Linked DNA regions of Homo sapiens. The protein of the gene in region 4 interacts with the protein of the main gene of each other region in a pairwise test. Each region holds a gene or a part of one and is shown on either strand. Other genes may lie near its edges.

Region 1 (7,027 bases), on a different chromosome or scaffold from region 4:
GGTGCTCGTAGCATTTAGGCTTGCAACCAAGGAAGCTAAATGTCCTCTACCACAAGGAACCGTTGCACCCCAAATGCTAGTACTTATGGAGAAACACGGCCCTAACGTGATTTTAAGTTGACACATGGGCCTTGGAATGGGTTTTCCATTTTCTTGAGTTTCTCCTCTGGGCCAGGGACTTAACTCTGACAGGATATGCTCTTTACTGAACCATGCCAGGCCTCAGTGTCCTCATTTGGGTGAGATCAACCTGCAAGGGTTGTGCAGGCAACAGCTTGGCGTGGAGGAAGAGTGTGCTTGAGCCCCGCGTGTCCCCCAGCTCACTGTGCGGTCTGTGCTCCATCTCCACCTCGCCTCCAGACCTTAAGCTGTGCTGTTTCTTTTGCCCGGAACACCCGCCCTGCACCTTAAACTCCATCTTCAGGACCCAGGCTCAGGGGAGCTCTTCCTACACTCCCTGACCAGGCTGGAATCCCCGCCTCAGCCTCTTGCAGGCCCCAACATTTCTCATTTAGAATACCTGTACCTATAATTCCACAAACACTGGTGCAATTATGTGTGGTTTCCTTTCAAAGACGGGGGCCCACATTCTGTGCCAAATATGCAGTAGGCACTCAATAAATACTGTACTGAAAGAACCAAAGGGAAGTCAAGGAAGCTGGTCCCAAAATGTCAACATTGGACAACCCCTTCTAGTTCTCAGCTCGGAGCTCCCTCCCCAGTCCTGTGGCTCTAGACATTGCCTTACACTTTCTGGGGCACTAGATGCTGTCTGGCTGGAGGAGGGTCAGAAAGGATGGTTGGGTTCGAGTAGAAACATCTGAACTTTCTTATTCTTCTTGAAGTGGCAGGTAAACTCACAGAGCCCAGGTAAACTCACACACTACCAAGGCAGGTGTTTTAGGCAGATGGGTGCCCCCACAGGCAGCTACCTTGGCTAGGTTGCTGGTGGAGACGGTCATGGTGAAACAGATTGGGTATACAGGAGCCATAATCTCAAGGAACATGGCTACGTCATTGAGGATGTCCGCAAAAAGCCTGGGGAGGGATCAGAGGTTAGAGGTCAGAGGTAGGAGACTTTCATAATGGAAGACTCCCCTCCCCCGTCCCCGCCCCTCCTCACCTCCACTGCTTGGCATTGCAGTCCAGTTTGCTCCTGTTGGGGAGGAGAGGTTGTTGTAATTTGGACTTAAGGAGAAACACATCCTATGGGCAGTGTGGGGAGTCTTGGACCACAGTAAAGTCTGAAGAGCTCAGGAAAACCCACACCCCCAGACAGACATCTGTCCCCACAGCCGGTCACTGCTACCTAAAATGCCACCATTAGCTGGGAGAACCTTCAGTGACTGACTGATCACCTAGTGTCTCCCGCTTATGAACTCATGATTTACCAAGGAAAAACCCTGATTGTCTTGTGGCTGCTCCCCAGCCTCTGTCTGTCCTTGGAGGGAGGCTCTTCCTGAGTTCCTCTGCCTCTCTCCGTTCTTCTTCTTGCTTTAGAGTGAGGGTACCCAGTGAGCATGTTTTGGACTAGTAAACATCACATTGAGTGTGTAACCCTGCATGTTACAGACAACTAGCCCTCACAGGGGATATGATTTCCCTGGATCACACGCAGAGTTGGGGAAAAGGCTAAGAGAGCCGGGCTCCGACATCCAGGCCTAGGGTACTTCTGTTACACAACACCGTGGACGGCTACCTCACCTGCCCTTTTCGTCAGACAGTGACTCCCTGCCCTGTGCACAAACACTTGGAAACAACTTCTCTAGGGTCCCAGTGGCAGGAGATACTGCAGCCCCAGCCCAGCTCAGGATTTGCAGCATTAGGCCCGAGTCTCAGTATGAGATCTCCTGGAGGGAATGGGAATATTCTTGGGAGAGGTATCAGACACACATAACGAGATCCTGAACACATGGCCTGGTTGAGGGTTCTGCCCAGTGAACTGCCCAATACCATGGAAAGCACAGGCTTCAGGTTCAAATCCCATCTCGCTAGTTATAAGCTGTGTGGTTTGGGCAGGTAACTTCCCTCATGCAGGTATATTTCACATTTATGAAATGTACACATCCAATCCCATCCTACAGAGTTGCTGTAAGGATTAGAGACAACATACAGAGGCTCAGGGGGCACAGTTACAGCTGTTAATGGTAGCTAGTGTTTACTGAGCCATTATGTACGATGCCACGGGCATTAAGCACTTTGCATAGATCATCTCATGGAACCCTTACAGCCACAATTAATGGCAATACTATTACTATCATTACTACCACTACTGGGAAGAGTTGCCAGAGTTGCTGGCCGGGAAGACAAACTCACCCTTTCCACCAGGCAAAGACGATGCGGCCCAGCATGCCAGTTGAATCTGGGGGAAAGAAGGCACAGGTAAGGAGCAAGGAAGAGGTGTGGGAGCTGTGGGGCCTGGCAGACCCTGGCACTGAACTGGCCAATTCACTGAGTCACTGCCTTTGGGAACTCGGTCTGGTACTAGAAGTTGTGGATAGTCATAGCTACATAATGGGGTCAGAAGTGCCTACAAATAGCAGTTCCTCAATATGTCCCCTAGGAGACATGGACAAGAAATGTTCTTTGCAGAATTGTTCATAACAGCAAAAAACCTGGGAATAATGCAAATGTTGACTGACAGAATACATAAATTCTAGTATATTCACCCAGAGGCATTCATTCATAGATGAATACTATTAAACTCTTGCATGAAAATAACTCATGAAGACCACATACAGCACAGTTTGCAAAGCTCTAAAATTAAAACTAAACAATATAGCACTTAGGAATATTTACCTATTTGGTAAAACTATTCAAAAAAGCAGGAAATCTTAAGTGGAAATTCAAAGGTTATTGCTAACCTGTTCTAGCTCTTAGGCTGGGCAGTTGGCTCACAGATGGCTATTATGGGATAAATAAATAAAAGGATTTAGGCTGGGTATGGTGGCTCAGGCCTATAATCCCAGCACTTTGGGATTACAGGGGGTTTGGGCCCAGGGACTGCTTGAGGCCAGGAGTTCAAGACCAGCCTGGGCAACACAGCAAGACCCCATCTCTACAAAAAGTAGGAAAGAAATTAGCCAGGCATGGTGGCATGCCTGTAGTCCCAGCTACTTGGGAGGCTGAGGCGGAAGGATGGCTTGAACTCAGGATCAATGCTGCAGTGAGCTATGATCATGTCACTGCACTCCAGCCTGGATGACAGAGCAAGACCCAGTCTCAGGAAAAAAAAAAAAAAAAAGATTTGAACTGCAGCTGGGGTTGCACGGCAGAGGGACAGGCCTCCTTAGGCTGGGCAGAGTAAGAGAAGTCTCTGGAATCAGTGGGACCTTCGTTTGCACAACAAATGCTTTCTGGCTACCTAACTCTCTCTGCCAGGTACTTCATGACCACAGTGACCAAGATGATCCCAGGGTCAAAATCCAGCCAAAGAGCAGATAACAATCAGTATAGAAAACACTGATTTAGACCAGGAATCACTAAACTGTTTCTACTCCCTGGTTTTGGAAATAAAGTATTACTGGAATGCAGCCATGCCTATTTGTTTACAGATTGTCTATAGCTGTTTTTGCAAGACAATGACAGAACTGAGTTGCTGCAACTAAGATTATAAAGCCTGCAAAGCATTAAGATCTGGCCCTTTACAGAAAAAGTTTGTCAATCTGGACCATCCATTATACAGAGAGCAGCACCCATTAAGCCTGGCAGAAATATTTTAGAACGAGACACCTGGGAGGGACTCATACAGTGGACATGGGAGAGGACAGATACCATGGGGAGAGGATTTGGACTTGTCTGAGCTTGAGGGCACTGACCCTGAGGTGGGGATGTAGGAGAAAGGACACTACGTTATGGGAATGAGGGCTGGGAGCTTCCCACGAAACATAAATGCAATGACACGGGCCAGCCCTCCCATTCTCCACTGAGAGCAGATGCATTCTCCCCTTTCCAGAGCCTTCTTGGGCACTGAGTCATGCTTGCCCACCCTGGACTTGAGGGAAATCAGTAAGCGCTCCAGTGCACACCTGAAATACCTGTGCTTTTTCATCTTCACAATGATCCTGAGACTTTGGGAGGGATCATTCCCCTTCACTAAGGCTCCCATTAAATCGGTGAATAAAATTGAGGTATTTTACAAGAAAATATGGATTTCCAGCTTCTCTGGAAGAACCTGAAGATATGGCCACACTGGGGCTGCCCTCTCTCACGGCCAGCATCAGCTGGGGCTACCTCACTGAAGGAAAGCATGGGTCCAAGCTACTGCCATCTGGCCTGCTTTGTTTCTCCATTTCTGTCCTGACTCTGGAAGTAACACCCAACAAGGTGGATTTACAGGCCTCCCATCCCTCACTTTAACCTCTTCCCTTCAAGTACATTATATTCTCGGCAAAATCATCATTGTGCCAGCCACCACACCTGGCTAACTTTTGTATTTTTAGTAGAGATGGGGTTTCACCATGTTGGCCAGGCCAGTATCAAACTCCTGACCTCAGGTGATCCACCCGCCTCGGCCTTCCGAAGTGTTGGGATTATAGGCGTGAGCCACTGTGCCCAGCTCAGACTCTATTTTTCTTCCCTTTAGCTACACACTTGTATCCACTCAGGTGTATGTCCTCCTTGGGCCACCTGACAGAAAGGGAGCCTATTCTACCTTTCCATGGATCATCAGAGGCATTTACAGGACAAATGATATATATACTCCCTAGCATCTGAGTCACTACTGTCCACTAGAATAGAAAACTCCCACTTGCTTTTTTTTCCTCTTCATTTACAACTGGCCAAGCTGTAAGATCTAGAAACATCTGAGTCCTAATAAGGAATCAGCTGACCACAAATTGTACTTGGCTCCACTTGACATTCTTAGCTGGCAAAAGAGTGTGGTAGTTAAGAGTAGAACACAGGAATAAGTCTGCCTAGGTCAAAATCATGGCCCTAAGTGACCTTGGACAAGTTACTTAAACACACTTTTGTCTCTGTTTTTCCATCTAAAAAATGAATAATGGCAGCTAACTAATATGGCTGCTGCAGAGATCAAGACACATATTACATGTAACCATACAAAATGTGTGGCTTAAGGTAGGTTGCCAAAATATTAGCAACAAGTTTTATTACTATTGCTACTCATGACAACTGGCATCACGTTCCACTGAGACAGGTAACTGAAAATGATCACATCAAAAAATCCCAAGTAAGTTTCTCAGATGAAGCTCTGCACAGAAATTTCCCATGTTTGATGAAAATGAGCTTGTAAAATCCTAATTGAGAGCTTCTTTTACTATCAATAACAAGCCTTTATTTATTTATTTTTTTAGATGGAGTTTCACTCGTTGCCCAGGCTGGAGTGCAATGGCGCAATCTCGGCTCACCACAACCTCCGCCTACTAGGTTCAAGTGATTCTCCTACCTCAGCCTCCTGTGTAGCTGGGATTACAGGTGCACACAACCATGCCTGGCTAATTTTGTATTATTAGTAGAGAGGGGGTTTCTCCATGTTGGTCAGGCTGGTCTCGAACTCCTGACCTCAGGTTATCCGCCTGCCTCAGCCTCCCAAAGTGCTGGGATCATAGGCGTGAGCCACCGCACCTGGCCAATAACAAGCCTTTTAAGTAGATTTTTCATCCTTTTTCTTTGAGACAGGGTCTCAGTCTGTCATCCAGGCTGGACTACAGGTGCCTGCCACCACGCCTGGCCAATTTTTGAGTTTTTTGTTAGAGACGGGGTTAAACCATATTGGCCAGGGTGGTGTCCAACTCCTGACCCCAAGTGATCCACCTGCCTCTGCCTCCCAATGTGCTGGGATTATAGGCGTGAGCCACGGCACCTGGCCTTTCTTTTTTTTTTTCATATCTTAAAGTGATCTTGATTTTTCTTAATAACTTGTCTGAGCTAAAGGTTTAGCGTTCCTTTTTTGTTTCAGACAGGATACTGCTCTGCTGCCCAGGCTGGAGTGCAGTGGCACTATCTCGGTTCAGTGCAACCTCCACTTCCTGGGTTCAAGTGATTTTCCTGCCGCTGCTTCCTGAGTAGCTGGGATTCCAGGCACGTGCCACCATGCCTGGCTAATCTTTGTATTTTTAGTACAGATGGCGTTTTACCATGTTGGCTAGGCTGGTCTTGAGCATCTGACCTCAACTGATCTGCCGACCTTGGCCCCCCATCCCAAAGTGCTGGGATTACAGGGATGAGCCACCATGCCCGGCCAAGGTTAAGCATTCCTAATCCAAAAACCTAAAATCTGAAATGCTCCAAAACCTGCAGCTTTTGGGAGTGCAGACACGATGCCACCAGTAGAAACAGCCGATGGTGAAATAGCACAAACTGTTCTTGTAGGGAAAAGAAAGAGATCAGACTGTTACTGTGTCTATGTAGAAGAGGAGGACATAAGAAACTCCATTTTGATCTGTACTAAGAAAATTGTTTTGCCTTGAGATGCTGTTAATCTGTAACTTTAGCGCCAACCCTATGCTCACAGAAATGTGCTGTATGGAATCAAGGTTTAAGAGATCTAGGGCGGTGCAGGATGTGTCTTGTTAACAATATGTTTACAGGCAGTATGCTTCATAAAAGTCATTGCCATTCTCCATTCTCGATTAACCAGGGGCACAATGCACTGTGGAAAGCCACAGGGACCTCTGCCCAAGAAAGCCTGGATACTGTCCAAGGCTTCCCCCTACTGAGACAGCCTGAGATGTGGCCTCGTGGGAAGGAAAAGACCTGACTGTTCCCCAGCCCGACACCTGTAAAGGGTCTGTGCTGAGGAGGATTAGGAGAGATATGCTGGCGGCAATGCTGCTCTGCTACTCTGCTACACTGAGATGTCTGGGTGGAGAGAAGCATAAGTCTGGCCTACGTGCACATCCGGGCACAGTACCTTCCCTTGAACTTATTTGTGACAGATTCCTTTGCTCGCATGTTTTCCTGCTGACCTTCTCCCCACTATCACCCTGTTCTCCTGCCGCATTCCCCTTGCCGAGATAGTGAAAATAGTAATCAATACTGAGGGAATTCAGAGACCAGTGCTGGT
Region 2 (7,749 bases), on a different chromosome or scaffold from region 4:
CTGTGATGAGAAAAGTGGCTGTTTGTGAACGAGACCCAATAAACCTCCCCATCCCAGAGTTTGCAAAGCATTTTCACTTACGTCCCCATCTACACTGATCTGCGACTGTGGGGATTATTTTTTTTTTTTTCTACAGATGGATAGTGAATGGCAGAAAGAGACCCCAGGAGAAACAGACTCCTGGTTGTGGGAGGCTCTGATATACCCCGTAGCTGCCTCGAGGTTACACTGTGCTAGAATTAAAAGCTGTAAATCTAAAGGAGACTAGACTGGCACTATCAGTGTCCCTGAGCTGTACTGGGGTAAAGCCAGCCAAGCACAGGAGGAACCTGGCCCCAGGCTCCTCGTGAATGCTTTGAAAGAGAATCACATCCAAGGTACTGCGAATGGATGTTTACAGACCCTCCTCTGAGACAACCCCAGGGCAGCAGGAAACAAAACCTTCTCAAATACGCTCCTACTCAGGGACAAGAATAAAATGTCCTTTATGCTTCTCACAGGGTTCTGATGCTTTCCAGACCAGACCACGTTAGATGAACCCAGGGGAATGTTTCCCATTGGTGTCCTTCTAAGAAGGAAGAAGGAGGAAGGCAAGAAGTACTTACTGAGTTCCTCCAAGGCTCAAACAAAATATGCATTTGTTTGCAGCTTCCTACTCGAAGCAGTTTACATTTCTGTGAGCTGGGAATGGCAGGGGTCTGGTCATTAGGTTAATGCTGGCATGTGACTGCTGTTTAATCTTCTCACCCCATTCAAGTTTCAACGATTTACCTGTTGGGGTTCAGAAACCAACACCCCTAAAATATGAAGCTTTGTGAAGAAGTCTCAAGGTCTCTCTGGCCTCCCCTCTCCCTCGTGTCTCTCCATTCTTTGTCTGTCTCATAAGCACAGGATGAGGTTGTTCTCTGACATTCCCTTACCTGCCTACATCCAGACCTACCAAAGAAAAAGACCTCTGGTCCCTTCCCTGAGTGTTCATTAATTGTACCCATATCACAGGAAGAAAGACTAAAGTCTGTTAACACAGCTGGACAGACTTTTGTCACAAACCAATGTCTGCTCTGTGGGCTCAACAGACTTTGTCCCAGCTCACTGTATGTTCTTTAAGCCCATTGAATTTCCCTAAAAATAATTTACTAGTCCCCTAAAATCATCCACACTTCCCCATCTCTCTTTCCCCTAAGATGAAGAGGATACAACCACCTGTACCCCATTGAGATAGCGGACAATCACTCTGTGATTTTTCCCCTATGCATGCTAATAAATGTGTAAGCCATTTTCCCTATTAATCTGCCTTTTGTCAGTAGATTGTTTAGAGAACCTTCAGAGTGCAAAGGGGAAGTTTTCTTGACCCCTAAAGTCCCGAAGACATCCTTTATAGCAAAGCATCTAGTTCAGAATCGAGTAGTCCATGTAGTTGTCATGGTTAGCTTTTAGCATTTCTTTTTTTTATTTGTTTATGTGTGTGTGTTTTCAAGTTTTATGTTATAATTTTGATGGAGCTATTTGTTCAATATCCAGGGTCTAATCTAATTGCTAGGTAAATATAAATATGCCCAGACATATTGATCTTGAATATACATAACAAATGTAAATTTTTGTGTGTTTAAATGATGACAATTTGTATTATATTTGTCAACGGTTCCAGCTTTTTGTCCTTATAAATTTAATACGACATTTACCTTGGCCAGATTTCTATAAACTACTACAATACTGAAATATAGAAATCAAGGAATGAATACAATTCTGTATCACCCTACATTGGCATGGTATTGATTAATTACGGTTTTGTGCAGACACTTTTCACCAGTGATCTCATCGATTCAAAAGGCTTGCAGAATATTGCCTGTTTTGTTTTTTCCTTTCCAGAAGCCCGTTCCTAAGTCCAGCTTGGATTCCTGTTTGTGCAGACTGCTCTGCTTACATCCTGGGCAGCTCTGATGCTACACTGAATGCCAGCCAAAGTCGGTGCCCGCTCACGTTCACAGAGAACAGGCAAGTGCCTTGCTTGAGGTCTCCCCACCAGTAAACTTTCCAGTAGGGGTTTCAGCCAGGGTAGTCTGATTCCAGAACCCAAGCACAGTGCCCCTTTGCATTTTCTCAGACTATGAAGCTTTTACAAAAGTAGATGTGGAAAGGGTCATCATGCTTCCCAAAGGTTCAGTTCTGCAGGCAGCCTCCACCCACTTGTTGTGGTCATGTGGCATGGGTCTGGAGTCCGGCTCTACTGTTTCCTGGCTGGGTGACCTCAGGTAAGTTATGTAACCTCTCCAAGCCTCAGTGTACTCCTCTGGAAAATGGGAACATTAACAATTCCTTCTGTATAACTTTGTTGTAAGGCTTTAAGGAGACAAGTGGCGTGAGGTGCTTACAATGTCTGACACGTGTAAACTCTCAATATTTTAATAGTCATAATTAATAGAGGTAAACTGCAAAAATGCACAAATCCTTATTTCTAATGTTTCTATACATCTCTACAGAAAAAGAAAAGGAAGCAAGGAAGGAAGGAAAGATCTTTTTGATGTGGATCCAGAACCCTTGGCTCACTGTGGACTTTGACATTATGCCTGACGTTGAGGCAGCAGCCAAATTCCACAATGAGACATAAGCACTCTTACACATTAACAAAAATGAGTGCCTAGAATCAGCTTTCATGCTCCCAATATACTCACTCGTGAATTGGGATTGGCGGCCCCCAAGCCCACACTGCCGCACTTTACACCCTCGGAAGAGCCCGTAGTAAATGTCCCCAATGAACTTGACCAGCTCTCTGTCTGTGGCGTTGACCAGATCCACTCCAGTCTGACAAAGGATTTTCCCACTCAGCCAGTGGGGCACTACCAGGGCAACGATGATCAGGATGAAGGAGGAGAAGCTGAGTAAAGACGCCAGCCCATACCACGCCTTTTTGAACCATCCAGGCATGCTAGTGGGTGCAGGTCATCCCCAAGGTCTCCGAGCAGCAGCGAGGGTCATTGACATCTTTCAGATACTCGGCAATGCTCTGCTCCAAGGTCAGCTCTTCCAAACACTCTGTTTCAAGGTTGTAGGTCCATCCTCTCGTCCTCCTTCAGCGCAAGCTTGCACAGTCCATGCTTCCTACAACCACATCCAGAAGCCTCTACAGAGACAATCTTCACCTGACTATGTAGCGGAGTGTGTTACTGAAGGAAGTAACCTTATATCTCCTCCTAGACTAATGTTTCAGCAGACTGTTTAACTGTTCCTCGTTTCAAGTATTTAAATAGCCCTGGTGTGGACCTCGTAATGATAAAGGAGTTAGTAATAAGCAAAATCAGGTAGCTCTGAAGATTAAGAGACGCAAACCAATCTCAAAAAATGCATGTGTTAGAAGGAAAACAAAAACAGAATGATTAGCACTTGAATATTGCCAACAATGCGCAGTATCAAATGTCGATCTCGCTGATGCATGGGTGCCCTGGCATTTCTTTCTCTGAAATGTCACTGCTGTCAGAATCTTTAGGACTGTTATTAATACCATCAAATGACCCCGGTTCTTGGGGCTTTAATATTGAAATGTGTAAATAGGGCCTTATGAATTTCTCACTGTGTGAATCTGCTGGGGGTAAACTGTGACTAGAATTACTTTGTGGCTGTTGGGGTAGCCTGGAATCCAACACTTAACATTGCTCTCACCCGTCCCTCCTTCTACGTTATCTGAAATGGGAGAGAAAAGTGTTTTTCTAGTGTATTAGCAAATAGTAGCCACACTGCTGGGGTATTCATCTCTTCTAATAGTGGAAGATCTAGGCTTTCCTTTTAATCTGTAGATACTAGGAATGAAATATTCTTTCCTTTCTATCTTATACTGTGGACTTTGACATTTTGACTTTTACCTTATTCCTGAATATCAACTTAACATCATGTGAGACTGGCAACAGTCACTCTATCCATATCTCTGGGGAGCAAAGTTGGGCAAAAGTGGAGCAGTAAAATTTCTTAGTTGGTCACAGAAGCCTGAAGGGGGGTTCAGGAAGTTGCACTGTTAACCAATAGGGGTCCCAGGAATCTCACTTGGAGAGTGTCAAGGAAGCAGAGGGACACATTAATGGAAATGTCAGTTTCCTTCCTCGCAACTGGGGCTCACTTCAGTGGCCACTCCACAATGAAAATAAAAATGAGAATTTCTGAGCCTGGGCAATGTAGTGAGACCTTATCTCTACAAAAAATAAAAAAAAAAAATAGTTGGGCCTGATGGCGTGTATTTGTAGTCCCAGCTACTGGAGGCTGAGGCTGGAAGACTGCTCCAGCCCAGGAGCTCAAGGCTGTAGTGAGCTATGATCATGCCACTCTGAGTAACAGAGTGAGATCCTGTCTCTTACTATATATACAGATGAGTGGCACTTTACCATGTACAAAATGCAAAATGCTTTGACCATATGCTTGCTCACCTCTGATGCTCCAGCAACCCTTTAAGGTAAACAGGAGATGCACGATTTCAGCCATTTCTCTCATGAAAAACTGGATGTCAGTGCTGGGGCTGAAATTCAGGTCTTTGAATTACAACAGCTCATCTTCATCCCAGTGACTTTGAAACAGCAAATGTTTTTCTGGTAAAAAATAACAGAATACATATAAAAGGCTCAGAAGACTGCTTGGCACATTAAGTGATCAATAATGTTAGTTCACGTTCTTATTTTAACATTAAGCATGCTTTGACAAGTCAGGACTTGCGTAAATATCATTGAGTCATATTTCTGCCGTCAGTGAGGGACCTGTGTCAACTTTTGGTGTTTTGAGGGTTAAGCAATTGTTTTCAGAAAAACTCTAAGGGAAACACTTGATTCCCAACAAGCCTTTGTCTTGCTGAACAAAGGTGTGGTTAAGTGGAACTCTAGCTATTGAAGACCTGTGTTCAAATTCCCACTCTTCCAGACAAGTGTCTGTGACTCTCATGCCTCAGCTTTCTAATCTGCATAGGATTATCGTGTGGAGTAAAGTGAAATAGCACAGGCAGATCACTTAGCGCAGTGCCTTGGATATAAGGAGCACTAAATAGATGGTGCTCTCCTCTCCATCCAGCCTCCTAGCAGTTCTATTTCTGATAATGAAGCTTCTGACAACAAAATGTGCTGCTGGCTGCATCCTCTTCTCTAGTGACATATTTCTGCATGCTTTACCTGGCACAAGTTTACTGAACAAACATCTGTGTCTGCTGTGTACAAGGTTATATGTGGATGGGAAGTGACACAAAGATGTATGTAATACAGGGTTCTGCTATCAAGAAGGTTATGAGAGTGTTAGAGCTCTGGTTCTCTATCAGTGATGAATTTGCCCCTAGGAGACAACTGTTAAATCTGGAGATATTTTTGATTCTTATGAGTGAGGGGTAGGGGTTTGCTATTGATTTCTAGTATATGCAGGCCAGGGATGCTGTAAATATCCTACAGTACCCAGGGCAGCACCTGTCACAAATAATTATCTGGCCCAAAATGTCAGTAGTGCTGTAGATGAGAGGCTCTGTGTTAAAGATACAGGCCATGGGCAGAAATAACTAATATACAAGGGAGAAAATGCCAGGATCTGTGTCTGGCGATGGGTGGCATATAGTAAAAGGGCCATTTGGATTAATGGGTATAAATTTACGGTTAGATAGAAGAAATAAGACCTAGTGTGGTTTGTCTCGTCTCGGCGGTGGACTTTCAGCTCCTTGAGCGGAGCGACCTCTTCTGTTTTTTTGGCAGGTGGGAATACTTAAATCTCTATTTTGATGCACAATTAAAAATAAAAAATTGCCAAAACAGTGGTCGAAAATTGTACTATACTATATTTTACATGCTTACACTTCACAAATTAATGCTCGTAAAACACCCGCTCTCCACCCTCCTCGCCCTTAGCCCGGCTCGCTGCACGCCCCGAGGCCCAGCACTTGCTGGCGGGTGGGAGGAGGGGCTTCGCCGATGTCCCCGTCCCAGGGGCAGGGCCTGGCCGAAGTTACAGTCCCTCCGGGTGGCGGGGCGCCCCGAGCGTGGCAGCGCGCTAGGCGGCAGCAGCGGGCGCGGAGCGGGGCGCGGCCGCCGCGCGTTCCCTCTTGGCGGGGTTGGCCGGCCGGGGCGGGGCGCGGCGCTCCGGCTCGAGGCATTCGGAGCTGCGGGAGCCGGGCTGGCAGGAGCAGGATGGCGGCGGCGGCGGCTGCAGGCGAGGCGCGCCGGGTGCTGGTGTACGGCGGCAGGGGCGCTCTGGGTTCTCGATGCGTGCAGGCTTTTCGGGCCCGCAACTGGGTAATGCTGCGGGCTGGGGCTGCTGGGTCTCCGCGGGGGTGGCCGGGGGCTTTCGTGTGGAACCCGGCGGGGGGCAGTCTAGAGGAAGGTGGGGGCCCCTGTGCACCCCCTGACTCGTGTTGCTTGCACGTGCGCGCACAGGTCTACGCGTCTATTCCTGTTTCCGAGTGCGTGCGCACGCCAGTCCCAGGGCGCTGGGCCTTTGCTGTGCAAGGAGGTGCTCCGTGGGCCTCCGCCAGACCCAAAAAGTCCGGCGTGACTCGGGAGAGAATTCCAAAGGGGAGGAACGGGAGCAGGGGTGAGAGGACGGAGAGAGAGTGTAGAAGGAAGGCTCTAGAATGAGACAGCCCAGTCCCGGTTACTAGTCATGAGACCGCGTATTGATTACCTAACGCCGTAGGACCTCGGTTTCCCCATTTGTACAACGGAGATTCTGACAGTGAGAGTTGGGACGATTAGATGAGATAATTGGTGTCGTTGCACATAAATTACCTGACGCCTGGTAAAAACTGTTTAAATGCTGTCTATTAATGTTACTATTACTACCCACCCCTGTTCTTTTAGCCCCATTGGATCTGACAGTTTGAAGGCTCAGCACGGAAAAACGCTGACGGCTTCTTTGCTCTGCAAAGACTATTTCAACTACTTTGCATAGTCAGGTGTCAATTTCCAGGAGGCGGCAAGTCGGAGCAGAGCTGATACATGGCCAAAGACCCTTGACCTCAGCCGCTCAGCAGGCCTCAGCAATTTCCCGGTGGAGACACTGCCAGCGGCAGCGTTCTGGGAGCTTAGTTAGCAGCAGCAGCACAGCAGCCTGGGCAAGAGTTCCCCTGGGACCAGAAAAAGGCTTTCAGGATTTTCTTTAAAAAAAAACTATCTAATTTTTATAGATGAAGGGGGCAAAAGTACAGTTTAGTTACATGGATATGTTGTGTAGTGGTGAAGTCTGGGCTTTTAGTGTAACCATCACCCAAATAGTGTACATTTACCAAGGTTTTCTTGTTGCTCAGAATCTGGTACAGGAATATGCTTCTGAAGAATTCAGTCACACCACTCCCTTCCTGCCACCCATCTGCTCAGTGCTTGGGGACACTGATGAGGGCGCTTTCCCAGGTCTTCAGAGATGCATGGTGGTGACAGAGGCAGCACTTCTGCCAAGGGCCAGGCACTGTGTTCCCAGTACCAGAGTTCCCATAGACTCTTAATGCCCCCAATATCTTTAAGGCAGTAGATCCTGTTAGCGTCATGTGTTAGAGGGTGAAGGCTGTGCTTTCTCCTGGTGGTGGCACTTTGGTTTACCTTGGTCTTGGCAGAATCTGGAGAGCTGATTTACCTCTGGCTCTTGGTCTTTCCCCTCCGAGCTTCTTCCTGCCATCTTAGGGAGGGCTAGGATGATGGAGACTTTTCATTGTTTCAGTATCCCCCATGGGATAACAAGTTAATTAATAATATAACAAATGTTGATGAATAGATGCTGTGTTTACAGCTTAAGGTAGAGATAATTATC
Region 3 (7,027 bases), on a different chromosome or scaffold from region 4:
ACAATGCATAACAATTTCAACATTAATTACTTAAGAGTTCAACCTTATTAGGATGTCTAAGTAAACTTAAAATTTCCATTTCCATTTATTCATTTTAACAAATATGTATTGTGTACCTATTACATACCAGGCACTATGACTATTGTAGGGATTATTAAAGTGAAGAAAACTGACAAAACCCCAGCTGTCAGGGAGCTAACACACCTGTATAGGCAGACAGACTATAAACAAAAAAAAAAGCAGTCACATGGTAATAGTGACTCTAGCAAGCCAGGAAAATTATTTTGGAAAATGATTCAAAGGAGGGGGATACAAGTGCACATGCTCTTAGATGGGACTGTGCTTGGCTGACTCCATGTGCAGAAGGAAATCAGTGTAGCTGAAGTCAGTAAGTAAGTGAGCTTTTAAGTTATTCCATTATAAGAGTTGTTTATATTTTCCTATCCCCCCAAAAATTTGAAAAAGGTTTTTAACAGTAATATATTTGTAAAAACCTACAATGCCACAATTCTACAAAACAAAATCCTTAGCTTATATGCCACCATGTTTGATCACTTATTTTTAAAAAATGAGATCAGAAGAAACAACTCTGAAGCTTGTATATTTTTCAGAAAGCTACAGTGAAAAGTAAATATAAAACTTTACCAAATATGCCAGGGTTTATCTTTGATGTTCTCTAAACACAGCAACTGAGACACTTTTACAGATGTCACTGCATCTCTAAGATCCATTTTATTTGCAAAGAATAAGATTGGAATTCGACGGTGTTTAATATCTAAAAGAGAAAATAAGATTATCATCACACTTCCAGCTTTTTAGGTCATTTTGCAGCAAATCTTTAGTACTGAAACCCATGAAATTTTTTTTCAATTATCTTTTTTCATATCACACACACAGAAACATTTAAAGACACATACTGTCACACTGTTAGGCATGTATTTGAGCAGTAACAAAATTTTAAAAATACTTCCTAGGACCATCTGCCCTCTGGTTAGGAGCTTTAACCAAAGATGGGTGAGGTGGGACTGGAGCTCAATAAGCATTACAGAGAAGTACCTACAAAAAAGCATTAAATATTTTGTTTCCTTTTTAATGGTGAACAGAAAGGAGGCAAACTTCAAGTAGAAGTAGAAGGAAAAGAAACTGGGAACTTATTTAAGTTTTTTGTCACAATATCATAAGTAACAAGCTAGATTTTTAAAAGATATTTTTACCTTGTCATGATTTTGGAAACATTTTTCATTTTTTTGAATAGACAATACATTTAAATAGTTCAAAATTCAGAAGATACAAAATGGCATACAGTAAAAGAATCTCCTTCCTAACTTTGTCCTAGGACAATGGTCTCTGTAGAAAAGGCAACCCATAACATCAGTGTCTTGGCATCTTCATAGAAATATTTTATGTATTTGCAAACATAATTATTATATATTATTTTCATATAGCAGGCCAACCTCATTACTTTATACCTTTATCTTTTCATTTATTTACATATCTTGGATCTGATCCCATATCAGTACATATAGAGCAGCTTCTTCATTATTTTAACCGTTCTGGAATATTTCTTCTTTTAGTACTATGTACTATTATTTAACCAGAACCCAACTGAGATACCTGTTACCAATCTTTACAACTATGAACAATCCTGTAATGAATAAATGTGTATATAGGTAATTTTGTACACCGGCCAGTATGTCCTTAGGATAAATTTAAGATGTGGAATTGTTGGGTCAAAGGACATAAATTTCTCTTTTGATAGACAGTGATTACCAAACTGCTTTCTCTTAAAAATTATATCAATTTACACTTCAACAACCACGTATAAGAATGAGTGTTTCCACTCCCCTAGCCAAAAGACTGCTATGAAACTTCTTGATATTTTCCATATCATAGGTAATAGAAAGGCCAAGAATCTTTCCATATATTCAAAAGATGTTTAAATTTATGTTTTTGTTGACTTACCTGATATGTCCTTTCCCCATTTTCTATTAAGCTTTTATATTCTTACTGATTTTTAGAAACACAAGTAGTATAGAAATATCCCTGTAGCTATGATATGAGTTGCAAATATTTTCCCTTGCCTGTCATTGTCTTTATCTGTTCACAGTACATTTTGCTATTCAAAGATTTTTTATGGCCATCAATTTTTTTAAAAAGTTCATATACACTTCAGCTGAGAAATCCCTCCCTTGGGAATCTATCCCATAAAATAAAGGAAGTAGTACATTAAGATCCATAGACAAGGCTTCAGTTGAGGAAATCAAAATCCCCATTGTTTGAAGTATATTTTATAGGAACTATTTCATTTTACTGCTCAACACTGAAACACTTTTTAGAGAAAAACTGGAAAGATTAATATGAAAGGAAGACATAATCAAAAATGCATTATCAATCTAGATACAAGACTGCTAAGTTTTTTGTTTTTTTTTTTGAGACAGAGTCTCCTCCGTTGCCCTCAGTGGTGCTATCTCAGTTCACTGCAACCTCCACCTTCCAGGTTCAGGCAATTCTCCTGCTTCAGCCTCCTGAGCATATGGGATTACAAGTGCACGTGCCTGGCTAATTTCTGTATTTTTAGTAGAGATGGGGTTTCACCATGTTGGCCAGGCTGGTCTCGAACTCCTGACCTCAAGTGATCCACCCGCCTGTAATCCCTCCCAAAGTGCTGGGATTACAGGCCTGAGCCACCACGCCCAGCCAAGACTGCTAAGTTTTTAACATTAAAAAGTCAAATAAAATGTACAGGGCGGATAATTTTTTTTCAAAAATTTCAGTAAGCTTGAGGTCATCTGTTAAAAATACCAAAGATATTGTGGTTAAGCAGTAACATTTATTAGAAAGCCCCACACTATTTCTATTTCATTTCTAACAAATCCACAGTTCTCTTAAACCACCATCCTTTTCTGAAAGTCCTAGCACAAGCACTATTTAAATTTTTTTGGCATGAGGAAGGCTAGAAATGCAGAGTTCCACAATACTTACTGGAGCACTGTTTGTAGTGGGGGCTTGGGCGGGAGGAAAGTATACATCAACAGGTGAATGATTAAATAAACTGTGGTACATTCATAGTAAACCATATTAGGCATCATTAAAAAGAATAACTACATAATTATATATAATTTGATTTGGAAGGATATCCATCATTAAGTGTTAACTGAGAATAGAAACATGCAGAAGAGTGTAAAGAATATGATTCCATTTTGGTAAATAACAATGATAGTCCCCACAGTCCTCAACCCTACAGATATTTTTGGGAGATATATATATATATATATATGAATAAATATGTAAGAAATGCTGTAATTAAACACACACAAACTCAGATACACATAGAGAAATGCATGAAAATATGGTAACAAATAATTTTAATGGGTGTTGAAATACACAGATCTTTATTTTATTTTTCCATCTGATTTTTTTTTTTTTTTTGCTTTGGTACAATTTATGTAATCAGAAAAAAGGGAATTTTTATTTTTGAGGAAATAAATGTTAGACACCCCAAAAACAATGCAAAATGCTTTACATTTACATTGCATGCAAAATTTACAAAATATGGTGATGTACATAAAATATAAATTTTGTATAACATATATGTTTTAAATTCAAAAATTTTAAATGAAAGATAATTACATAGTATAAGCAATACCCAAAGAACAAAACATTACACATAAATGAACCCCAAAGAACAGATACAGACTGAAAGACACACACATACCTGGATGATTCAGAAGAGTATCGAGTTCTTCTTTGGCCACAACCATTCTTAATCTATCACTACTATCAATGACAAAAATAATAGCTTGGCCTTCTCTGTGTAATGTAAAGAAAAAGAAAAATTAAAGCTTTACTTATAAATTTTTCCATGTTTATTATCCATGGGCATTTCCTAACCTAAGTATTATCTCCTTATGTCCTATGTCCATATATCATTAGAATTTTTGGTGTTGTTTCTTATTAGTTTATATGACTGATAAATATATTAATCATTAGTCATATTTCATGTAAAATACCTTTTCATTTGGATAATAAAGTAAATTTAATGACTTGCTACTTCATAATTTTAAAAAATGAGTAATTTTTTCATTAAAATATCAGAATATGAGAAAATGAGTTAAAATACCATAACCCTATTACACCGATGCAATAATTATTAATATTTTGGTATAAAGCTACACTTTGTGTATATTACATATGAATAAACTATATATGTATTTAAAATGGAATCCTGTATTACACCTTGCCTTTGCAATACATATGTAAATTTCCTTGATTTTTTTTTTTTTTACTACTATGGTTTTACTACTACTTTTATAAATTATTTTTACCATAAACCATAGTGAGAAATACATTTTGTATTAAGATACAGTAGACACATAGGTATATATAGATGTATTTTAAGTGAAAGTCTTCTGAAAAAATACTTACAAATAGCTTTTATTTTATTCTATTTGATTTTTTAAAAGCTGATAGCCAGTGATTGAACTAGTTAAGGATTCACCCATGGATCACATAGGCACTTGAAAAATTATTGATTATTCCTCTGCACTATCTTCTTTTAATGGTTCTAAACTATTGCACTGCATGGATGTGTCATCAAATACTGTATCAAACATTTGTTGCTGGACTTTTAGGTTATTTCCAATTTTCATCATTATGAAAAACTTTAAGGCAAATATCCTCCTACATACCTTTCTTTTAAAAAAGTTCTGATGCTTTAAGATTTATTAGAAATGTTAGGAGTAACATTTCTAAGACTACATACATAATTTAAAGTTTTAGAAAAACATTTCCAAACTGTCCTCCAGAAATGCCATATCAATTTACATGACTCAGTACTTTTCTCACTCCTTTGCCAGCACTGGCTATTATCATTATCATCATTCTTTTCAATAATTGCCATTCTAACAGCATATTATCTTGATCTAGTTCATTAATTGCCAATGAGGTTCAATATCTTTTCATATATTTATTGGACATCTGTACTTTTTTTTGCGAATCACTTAATCATAAATTAAGTATTTAAACTGCAATGTGATTAATAATCAAATGATATACAAAATAAAACTTTTTATATACCATTTTCTCCTATCATTAAAAAAGGATAATGCTGATTATCACAGACATACATTACCAGTACATATAGAAACCAGAACAATCAAAGTACCTATCAAGATCTATAAAAACGTTCAATCACTTTGAGCCAGTGATTTTATTTCTGAAATTCATTCTAAGGAATCACGAACTGGGGCTAAGATTTATACAAGATTTTGACTGAAGGACTGTTTACAATTTTCAAAAACAGAATAGCCTTCATGTCCTAGAGTAGAGAAATGGTTAAAGAAATTTTGGCAAAGCTGTGTGAAAAAATATTAGGCAGCTGTTAGTTATATTCATTGCATGTTTTTCCTGATTTACCCTTACCACATGTTAACTGAAAAAAGCAAGATACAAAATTATACATGGTACATAATTTAGATGGTTCCTTTTTCCTTAGTTATATAAAGTATATGTTATATATTTCAAAAGGAGGAGAAAGATACCAAAAAGATTGACAATGGTGAATTTATGAATAGTGAGATTTATGGGAAACATGTTTTCAATATTCTCTTCTATATTTTCCAAATTTAAAAAATGTGTACTCCTTATATTTTTGCATGCTATTACCTTTTTATATTGTAAAAATAGTATGTAAAAATTATATAATATTTAACATTATGGCATCATATAGATGAGAAAGTAAATGTCTCTCTTCACCAAACAGGATGTGAAAAAAAAAAGAAAAGAAAAATAAAAGAAAGTAAACTTCCCTTATAATCCTACTATTCCAAAAATAAATGCTACTAATGGTTTGGTGCATAATCCACTAAGAACTTTCTTCTTTCTATACATAGTAAGTACATATTTATAGCAAATGTAAATTTCCTTGATTTTTTTTTTTTACTACTATGGTTATATATATAGCAAAGATAAATATTTATAGTAACATTTTTACATAATTGATATAAAAATGTTATAAATAATGCTAACATACAACCTTCTATGTATATTTTTTTGCCCATAAGCCCTGGTCATAGAATACTTTTCTAAAAGTAAAAATGCTTGCTGGAGTTTATAAACATTTTTCATTTTAACAGATATCAATAAATTACCCTGAAAAAGATATTACATTCTCACAGGAGTGGCTCACTTTGACAAGAGCATACTTTATTAATCTTTGTAACCTTTTTCAGTCTAATAGATCAAAATGTACTTGTTTTGTTTCACAGTTAGAAAAGTACGAAAATAGGGAAAGTAAATTTACTTTTATTGTTGATTTTTCAATAGTAATCATATTCTCCATTCAATCTACAATGTAACCACTCTATTCTAGAATTCATAAATTTCATCCAAAAACAGTACAAAGAAAAAAGGAGTTAAAATCAAATAAAAACAAAGTTTACTTTCCTACTATTTTCTCTCTATATATATTTTTGTAATTAAAATTAAAGTATTTTTAAAGTAGCTAAATACATTTTTAAAAGGAATTATTTATCAACTAATTGGAGGAGGAATTTAAAAAATCCTGTACTGAAAACTCAGGTTTCCTAAACACACAAACAAATAAGAAACACATAAAATGCATCTCCCCAAGGAATTTAATGCAGAATACCACAAACATGCCACTTTTCCTTTTCCAAACTAACCCTCGAATCTGAAGCACTCTCTTTTCCCTCTCTCTCAGAAGTCTTCTGGACCTACGATTTAAATAGGCCTTCAATTTATTGAAGGACTCATTGAAAAAAAAATTTGAATAAATTTCCTCTGGTTCATATCCCAAATATATACCATTTAATGTTTGGTCTCACATTATTAGGAAAGAGTTAATCTAAATCTAAATCTTATCTGGTAAATATCACATACCATTTCAAGGCAGCAGTTCATAATGACAAAAGAGAGTTTAGTTAAGAGATAGTGTTTTTAAGTTTCAGACTCTAAAAGTGAAATACATTGCTCTTAAATGAAGTCCTAACAATATTAGAAGCTAATG
Region 4 (7,027 bases):
GAAATTTAATACTGTTCCACTACGAAAAGCATCCAATCTGGTCTAGACATATAAATTGGGTACCATAAATGTTTGCTAATTATTACACAAAGTTAAAATCCTAAGGAAAAGTCCAATCCAATTATTATGTTCTTGTAAGTCTGACCATGTGTGAACCTAGTAAAACTTTCAAATTGTTGGTATTAATTTTGCCTTTATAAACTGTTTTAAATCAAATTCTATTCCAAAAGGACAAATAGCCATCAAAGGTTCTTACTTGTGAAATAAGCCCCTGAATTTCAGTTTTTAGAAAAAAAAGCATTATCTAGATATAGAATTTTAAATATTATTCTCATGTATCTAAAGGCTGAGCCTACAAGCTGAAAAGTCCTGTTATTAGTGCTTTATAAAGACTGAAACCTCAACATACCTCACGATCAGCCTCTTGCTTCTGAGTATTTTAGTATTTTCAAGAGTTGAAATGCATTTAAAAAAGAAACAGGAAACAGGAATACTTACTTGAACCTGGCAGGTGAAAGAGGAGTAGGAGGAAACATTCCTGGTTCAAAAGAATCAAAGTAAGTCACTGTCCAAGAAAAGCTGCAACAGGAGAATCCAGCAGTTAGGGATATTATAAGTAGAGTCCAGAATCCTTAACAGGAAAAGAGAGGGGAAAAAGTACATTATTAACACCAAAACAATTTAAATTAAACCAGTACTCTCATGTTCAGATCATGTATATTTCTCATCTTCTAAATTATATGGATCTGATATTTTAAGAGATTTGAACTTATTGCAAGCTAACTTATGTAGAAATAAGTGTACATTACTAAAGCACAACTAGAAGTCATATCATTGAATATTTTAATTAAATGATAATACGTGGGAAAAAAGGGTAAATTCAACAAGAACATAACATCTTCAGTTTTATAAAATTCAACTACAGAAAACATGGTCAAAACATTTCACAAGACTCTTAAGATGTCTTGAGGCCAGACAAGGTGGCTCATGCCTGCAATCACAGTGTTTTGGGAGACTGAGGTGGGAGGATGGTTTGGGGCCAGGAGTTTGAGGTTGCAGTGTGCCTAGATTGCACCACTGCACTCCAGCCTGGGAGACAGAGTGAAACCCCGCTTCGAAAAAGAAAAAAAGTTCATCAGATTTTTCATTTAATTTCATAAATCATACCTTGCTATCTTTATTATTTAGTACTAAGTGATTCCTTTCATTCCACGCCATGCACTTTTGAAACTTGCCTCAATTTGGGGGTATCCCCTCTTTACAGTTTTCTTATGAACATTATAAACCTATTCTGATTCTTTAACCTTGCTCAGTATATGAACAAAAGTTGACTCCTGATTTACAAATGTGTGGGACCTTAGATTTTATTCGCACTGAGTTTGGAACTGTATTTTCTCACAGAAGTCAAGTCAAAAGAACAATATTATAATGGACTTAAGGAAAAACGGTTGAGAAGAATAGGAGGCATAAAGGGAAAAGAAAGGAGTAAGCTAATTTAAAGGTTTTTGGATACTATTCATAACCCATTAATAATAATAAAAGGATAATGACTTCTTCTTGTGGTTATAGGAAGACAGGAAATACTGATATTTAAGTGGTCAACTCCCTTTAGTAAGAAGTACAGCTTTATTTTGATGTCAAGTTTTCAAAAATTTTATAAATTAACTCACTTATTCACCCACTCAATCTATATTGAGGGGCTACTATGTGTTGGTTATTGTGCTAGGTAATGGGGATATAGGGATGAGCAAAATAAAAAAGATTGCTGTCTTCATGAAGTAATTCTAGTGGGATAGGAAGATAATAAAACATGTAAGTAAATTAACAAGATAACTATATATTGTGATAACTATTTTGAATAAATAAGATGTTACCACTTTAAGGAGGTAACATCAGAATTCAGATGGAAAATGTAAGCATATTTTTCTTGGAAGAATAATAGTTAATTCTAAAATTGACATGAAATAATAAGCAAAAATAGAGACTAGTCCAACCAAATATTGAAATAGTATAGGAACTGAATACCTAAAACGGTGTGTACTGATATACAAATAGACGACAGGGCCGGGCGTGGTGGCTCATGCCAGTAATCCCAGCACTTTGGGAGGCTGAAGCAAGAGGATTACTTGAGGCCAAGAGTTTGAGACCAATCTGGCCAACACGGTGAAACCACCTCTACTAAAAATACAAAAATTAGCTGGGCATGGTGGTGCATGACTGTAATCCCAGCTACTTGGGAGACTGAGGCAGGAGAATCACTTGAATCCAGAGGCATAGGTTACAGTGAGCAAAGACAGCACCACTGCACTCCAGCCTGGGTGACAGAGTGAGACTCTTTCTCAAAAACAAACAAACAAACAAACAACAGAACGAAGCAGAACACAAGATTCGGAAGAAGGCCCAAATAGATTAATAAAAAATGTTACTAATTCAATGGGGTGACCACTTACAAAAAGGAAAAGAAGTTAGATCCATACCAGATACCCTATACCAGACTAAATTCTAAAACGTACCAAATAATCTAAATATAAAGTTGTAGAAGCAATCATTGGAAAAACTGGAAAAGTCATTTATAGCCTTGGAGAGATAAAGACCTTTCTAACCATGATACAAAAATTCAAGACTCATATAAGACACAGAATTTCAACTATATACAGTCAGCCCTTCCTATCCACAAGTTCCGTATCTGGAATTCAACCAACCTTGGATGAAAAATATTTGGAAAAAAAAAAAGTAACAATACAACAATAAAAATAATGCCAATCAAAACCAATACAGTATAACAACTATTTACATAACATTTACATTATATTAGGTATTAGAGAGAGTAAATGGGAGGATGTGCATAGGTCATATACAAATACTATCCAATTTCATATAAAGGACTTGAGGATCCAGATTTTGGTATCCAGAGGGGGTCCTGGAACCAATTCCTCATGGATACTGAGGGACAACTGTATATAGGTAAACACACATATTACTATATATGCATAGCAAAATAAAATGTCAAATTGAATGACAAAAAATTTTTAAATAAAACATACCTTTGCAACTTACAGCATAAGGGAAAATTTCCTGCTAATACAGATAATTCCTAGAAGCCAATAAAAAAAAAGACCAGCAATCCAAAATCCAAATATAAAGTTAAATGCAATTGCAGAATAAAAACTACAAATGTTAAAACATGAACAGATGCTCAATTCAATACCATTAATAATCAGAGAAATTAGGTATCATTTTTTCATCAACTGACAAAAATCAAAAAGTTGGATAACATTCTCTGATGCTGAGGCTGTGAATAAACAGAAACTCTTCATGCATGGCTGTTTTGGAGAGTAAATTGTTTTAATTTCTATGGAGAGCAGTTTGGCAGTATCTGTTAAAATGATGCACATATATGTTCTTTACTCCAGTAACTTTATATGTCTTTAGGACAATATATCTCTGTATATTATAATATACAATTTTATATATATATACCTTTGTATATTATACAAACCTGTATAAAATGATGTATATACAAGATTGTTCTCTGTAGCTTTGTTCATAATAACATAGATTGAAAACAACCTAAATTATCAGTAATGAAGGTAAAGGATTGGTTAATTAAGTACATCCATACAATAGAATACTATGCAGCTATAAAAATGAATGAGGAAGCTCTTTAGGTACTGATATGGAAAGATCCTGAAAATATACTGGTGAGCTGAAAAACTGAAAGTTCAGAACAGCTCTATGCATTTGTATAAATAAGGGGAAAATATGTATTATACACATACATATATACATATGTTGTATATATGAAGAAATGTATATTGTACTTAGATATTTTAAAAAATTTCTGGAAGGATGTAAGAATTTAACATTGGTTCTCTGAGGAGGGAGGAAAGAGTGGTTGGGAGAAAAGAGTAAGCCTTTTCAGTCTATACTCTTTTACACTTTTTGAATTTTGACCCATATGACTATTCTACCTATTCAAAATAGAACTAAGTAAATTTGTAAAAAATAAAAAAATTCAGTCAGGTAGTACTTTTTGAACAGAGGAGCAGCAAGGAGGTCGTATCAGAATCTTTGTGGACTCATTTTTAAACTGCGTCTTTAAAACAGGTTTCTGAGAGTGTGTTCCATGCCTCAAGAATACAGGAAGAGTTGAGAACCCTAGCAGATGACTTACGAATTATCAAATTTCCTGACTATACAAATTATCCACCAGTCTTATTTTAGCAAGAAGCAGGTAAAAAGTACATGCAATGGACTGTTTGTAAATCTTGTGAAGCTCAGTAACAGACTGAAAAAACTGTTAAAGTACAGACTCAGAAGAATTATTAATAGAAAGTGTGGTAAATTATATCTCCTGATAGTTCCCTCCTCCCATCTCCCACCTGTTAAAGAGCTAATGGGCTCTGTGTTCATTTCTCCAGAAGAGGGATGTGGCAAAGCAGAAAGAAGAAATAGCCTGTTTTTCTACTTTACATTGCACAATATTTACAGAAACCAGTGTACAGATATAATCAGGGATAGGAGTGTGGATAAACACAATATGTCTTGAATGCACAGCAAAGACAATGAGTTGATTGGAGTACAGATAAAATGTTTGTGTGGAACAGGGAGAGAGTGAGGGGCTTATCGACAAGTGAGAAAGATTTCCTTAGTTTAAATAAAGTAGGTTGTATGCATGTTTGCACTTATGTGTGTAAATGGGGAAAGGGAGTAGTGCTACTGGGGCTTCCTGACAAAAGCATCTAGAAAAGCCCATGCAAAACCACACAGGGAGTATAGCTGTGTACAGTATCTTGGTAGGTAAGTACAGAGCCAAGCCTGCAGATGCCTCTGCCCTAAGCCTGGCATAGAAACACCACATGGTCATGTGGCTGGAAGTTGCCACATCTGAAACACCATCCTGACCACAATAAAAGATACTTCAATACTCACTATAGCAAATGTCTTGAGGATTAGTCTGCACCTTCACCCCAATATCCTGGCACAGTATCCACCTCTAGCACCTCAACCCAACCTGGAATTGGGTGAACAGAACCTTAGAATAACCTTCCTACCAATCTATCAGGATAGAGGGTAAAAAAAAAAAATTATAAGATTTAGTCTACAACTACAACTTAGGGGTTGCTATACTGCCAAATAGCTGTTATTTGCTATTATTTAGATGACTATGTCTAAAGAGGGGAGAAAATAATTGACAAGTTTACTCAAAGTTTAACATACTTCTCCAGAACAAAGATGATAGTTAAGAAAAATAAAGTGTTTGGGGACTGCTATAGAACGATGAAACTTCTAGATAAGTGAGGAAAGACACAAAGTAACATAAAAATAATCAAATGTGAGGCTTTCTAAAGCCTGTTGAACTTTTTCACTTGAGTGCTTTAATAGGGTACCTGTCAAATTTAATACAAGAATATTCTTGAGTTTTTCCAAAATTACTATTCCACAATCTAAGTACTTACTTCGCATTGAGCATTTTTATTATTTTATGTTCATTTTAAACTAATCAGAAGCTGCATCATGGGTAAGTCAGGTCACAATGATAGGGGTAAAAAAAGTACATTGCAATATTGTGGTCTAGAAGTGTTTATGATTCGGGAAATTACCTAATTCATTTGCAAATAAGCAGAAAAGCCACAGAAAATGGTAACTCCCCAACAACTAAATTTTTTACAAGTCAGTACCTGCAGAATCCTCATGCTAAAATTTTGATGTTTTATAAGCCCTTAGAAAGAATTAACAACTTTAAAAAGAATATAAAAATGAAAGCATATTAAATGAAATTCTTCCTTCCTCAGTTTGCCAATTTCATTCCTAAAAGTGATCAGCTAAGAGTCTGGTGTGCATCTTTCCAAAAATTATATACATATCTAGGTAATACAGGTACATATATAAAGCTAGTTATATATAAAACGTATATATATCTTCTCAGCTTATTTTCCACAAGTGAGATTCTCACCAGAAAAATGGTTCTGCATTTTGCTTTTTTCACATATTCTGGAGACCTTTCCTATCAGCACCCACAGCCACAGTTCTGTTGTGTGTGTGTTTTTTTTTAATTCTAGCTTTTCTCTATTACAAACAATGCTCCAAGGAACATTCTTGTATTTAAGGGTACAGTTGTACAAGGACATAGATGTTACAAATTTCCAGAATAACTGCTACCAAAGGTTGCAGGCTTTTAAATAAATACACACATCCTTCGTTCTTCTCTACAGCTCAATATTCATCAGTTGATGAAATGATGTGTGTGCATATATGTGTGTACACACACACACACACACACACACACAGACAAAGTCTGGCTCTGCCACCCAGGCAACCTCCACCTCCCAGGTTCAAGCAATTCTCTGGCACAGCCTCCCAAGTAGCTGGGATTACAGGCGCCTGCCACCACACCCAGCTAATTCTTGTATTTTTAGTAGACACAGGGTTTCACCATCTTGACTAGGCTGGTCTTGAACTCCTGACTTCATGTTCCACCCGCCTCAGCCTCCCAAAGTTCTGGGATTACAGGCGTGAGCAACTGTGCCCAGCCAAAGTGATGTATATTAATTTTTTTTTTTTTTTTTGAGAAGGAATCTTGCTGTGTTGCCAGGCTGAGTGCAGTGGCGCAATCTCGGCTCACTGCAACCTCCGCCTCCCAGGTTCAAGCAGTTCTCCTGCCTCAGCCTCCAGAGTAGCTGGACTACAGGTGTGCACCACCACATTCAGCTAATTTCTGTACTTTTAGTAGAGACGAGGTTTCACCATGTTGGCCAGGCTGGTCTTGATCTCTTGACCTCATGATCCGCCTGCCTGGGGCTCTCAAAGTTCTGGGATTTCAGTCAGACGCCACCACGTCTGGCCAATGAAATGATGTATACTAATCTTTTCCATCAATTGAAACCTCTTAAGACTGTTTTCATCCAAAGCAAAAACAGGGATGGGTAGGAATTTCCTATCCCAATCCCTTTGCTGGAATATTATAGACACCTATCTAAGGGTATATTTGTTTTGGCTTATTTTTCAAAATAAGCCATTCTGGTGT

What was found.
Region 1: the proteins of ARL6IP6 (region 4) and RUSF1 interact in binary tests that used the Homo sapiens proteins (3 or more experiments, as listed by UniProt).
Region 2: the proteins of ARL6IP6 (region 4) and CLRN2 interact in binary tests that used the Homo sapiens proteins (3 or more experiments, as listed by UniProt).
Region 3: the proteins of ARL6IP6 (region 4) and ARL6 interact in a two-hybrid assay, tested with the Homo sapiens proteins (one study listed by BioGRID).

Annotation. Positions count from the first base shown.
Region 1 is NC_000016.10:31,498,370-31,505,396, forward strand, and holds part of RUSF1 (RUS family member 1), read right to left. Parts: intron 2,363-7,027; coding exon 2,317-2,362; intron 1,157-2,316; coding exon 1,124-1,156; intron 1,039-1,123; coding exon 933-1,038; intron 1-932.
Region 2 is NC_000004.12:17,510,443-17,518,191, reverse strand, and holds the start of CLRN2 (clarin-2), read right to left. Parts: upstream 3,028-7,749; 5' UTR 2,926-3,027; coding exon 2,673-2,925; intron 1-2,672. Other genes in the region: QDPR (dihydropteridine reductase), read left to right, coding at 6,138-6,242. UniProt on the Homo sapiens protein: Plays a key role to hearing function. Required for normal organization and maintenance of the stereocilia bundle and for mechano-electrical transduction.
Region 3 is NC_000003.12:97,781,738-97,788,764, reverse strand, and holds part of ARL6 (ADP-ribosylation factor-like protein 6), read right to left. Parts: intron 3,811-7,027; coding exon 3,716-3,810; intron 776-3,715; coding exon 646-775; intron 1-645. UniProt on the Homo sapiens protein: Involved in membrane protein trafficking at the base of the ciliary organelle. Mediates recruitment onto plasma membrane of the BBSome complex which would constitute a coat complex required for sorting of specific membrane proteins to the primary cilia.
Region 4 is NC_000002.12:152,728,598-152,735,624, reverse strand, and holds part of ARL6IP6 (ADP-ribosylation factor-like protein 6-interacting protein 6), read right to left. Parts: intron 3,095-7,027; exon of another isoform or gene 3,045-3,094; intron 632-3,044; coding exon 499-631; intron 1-498.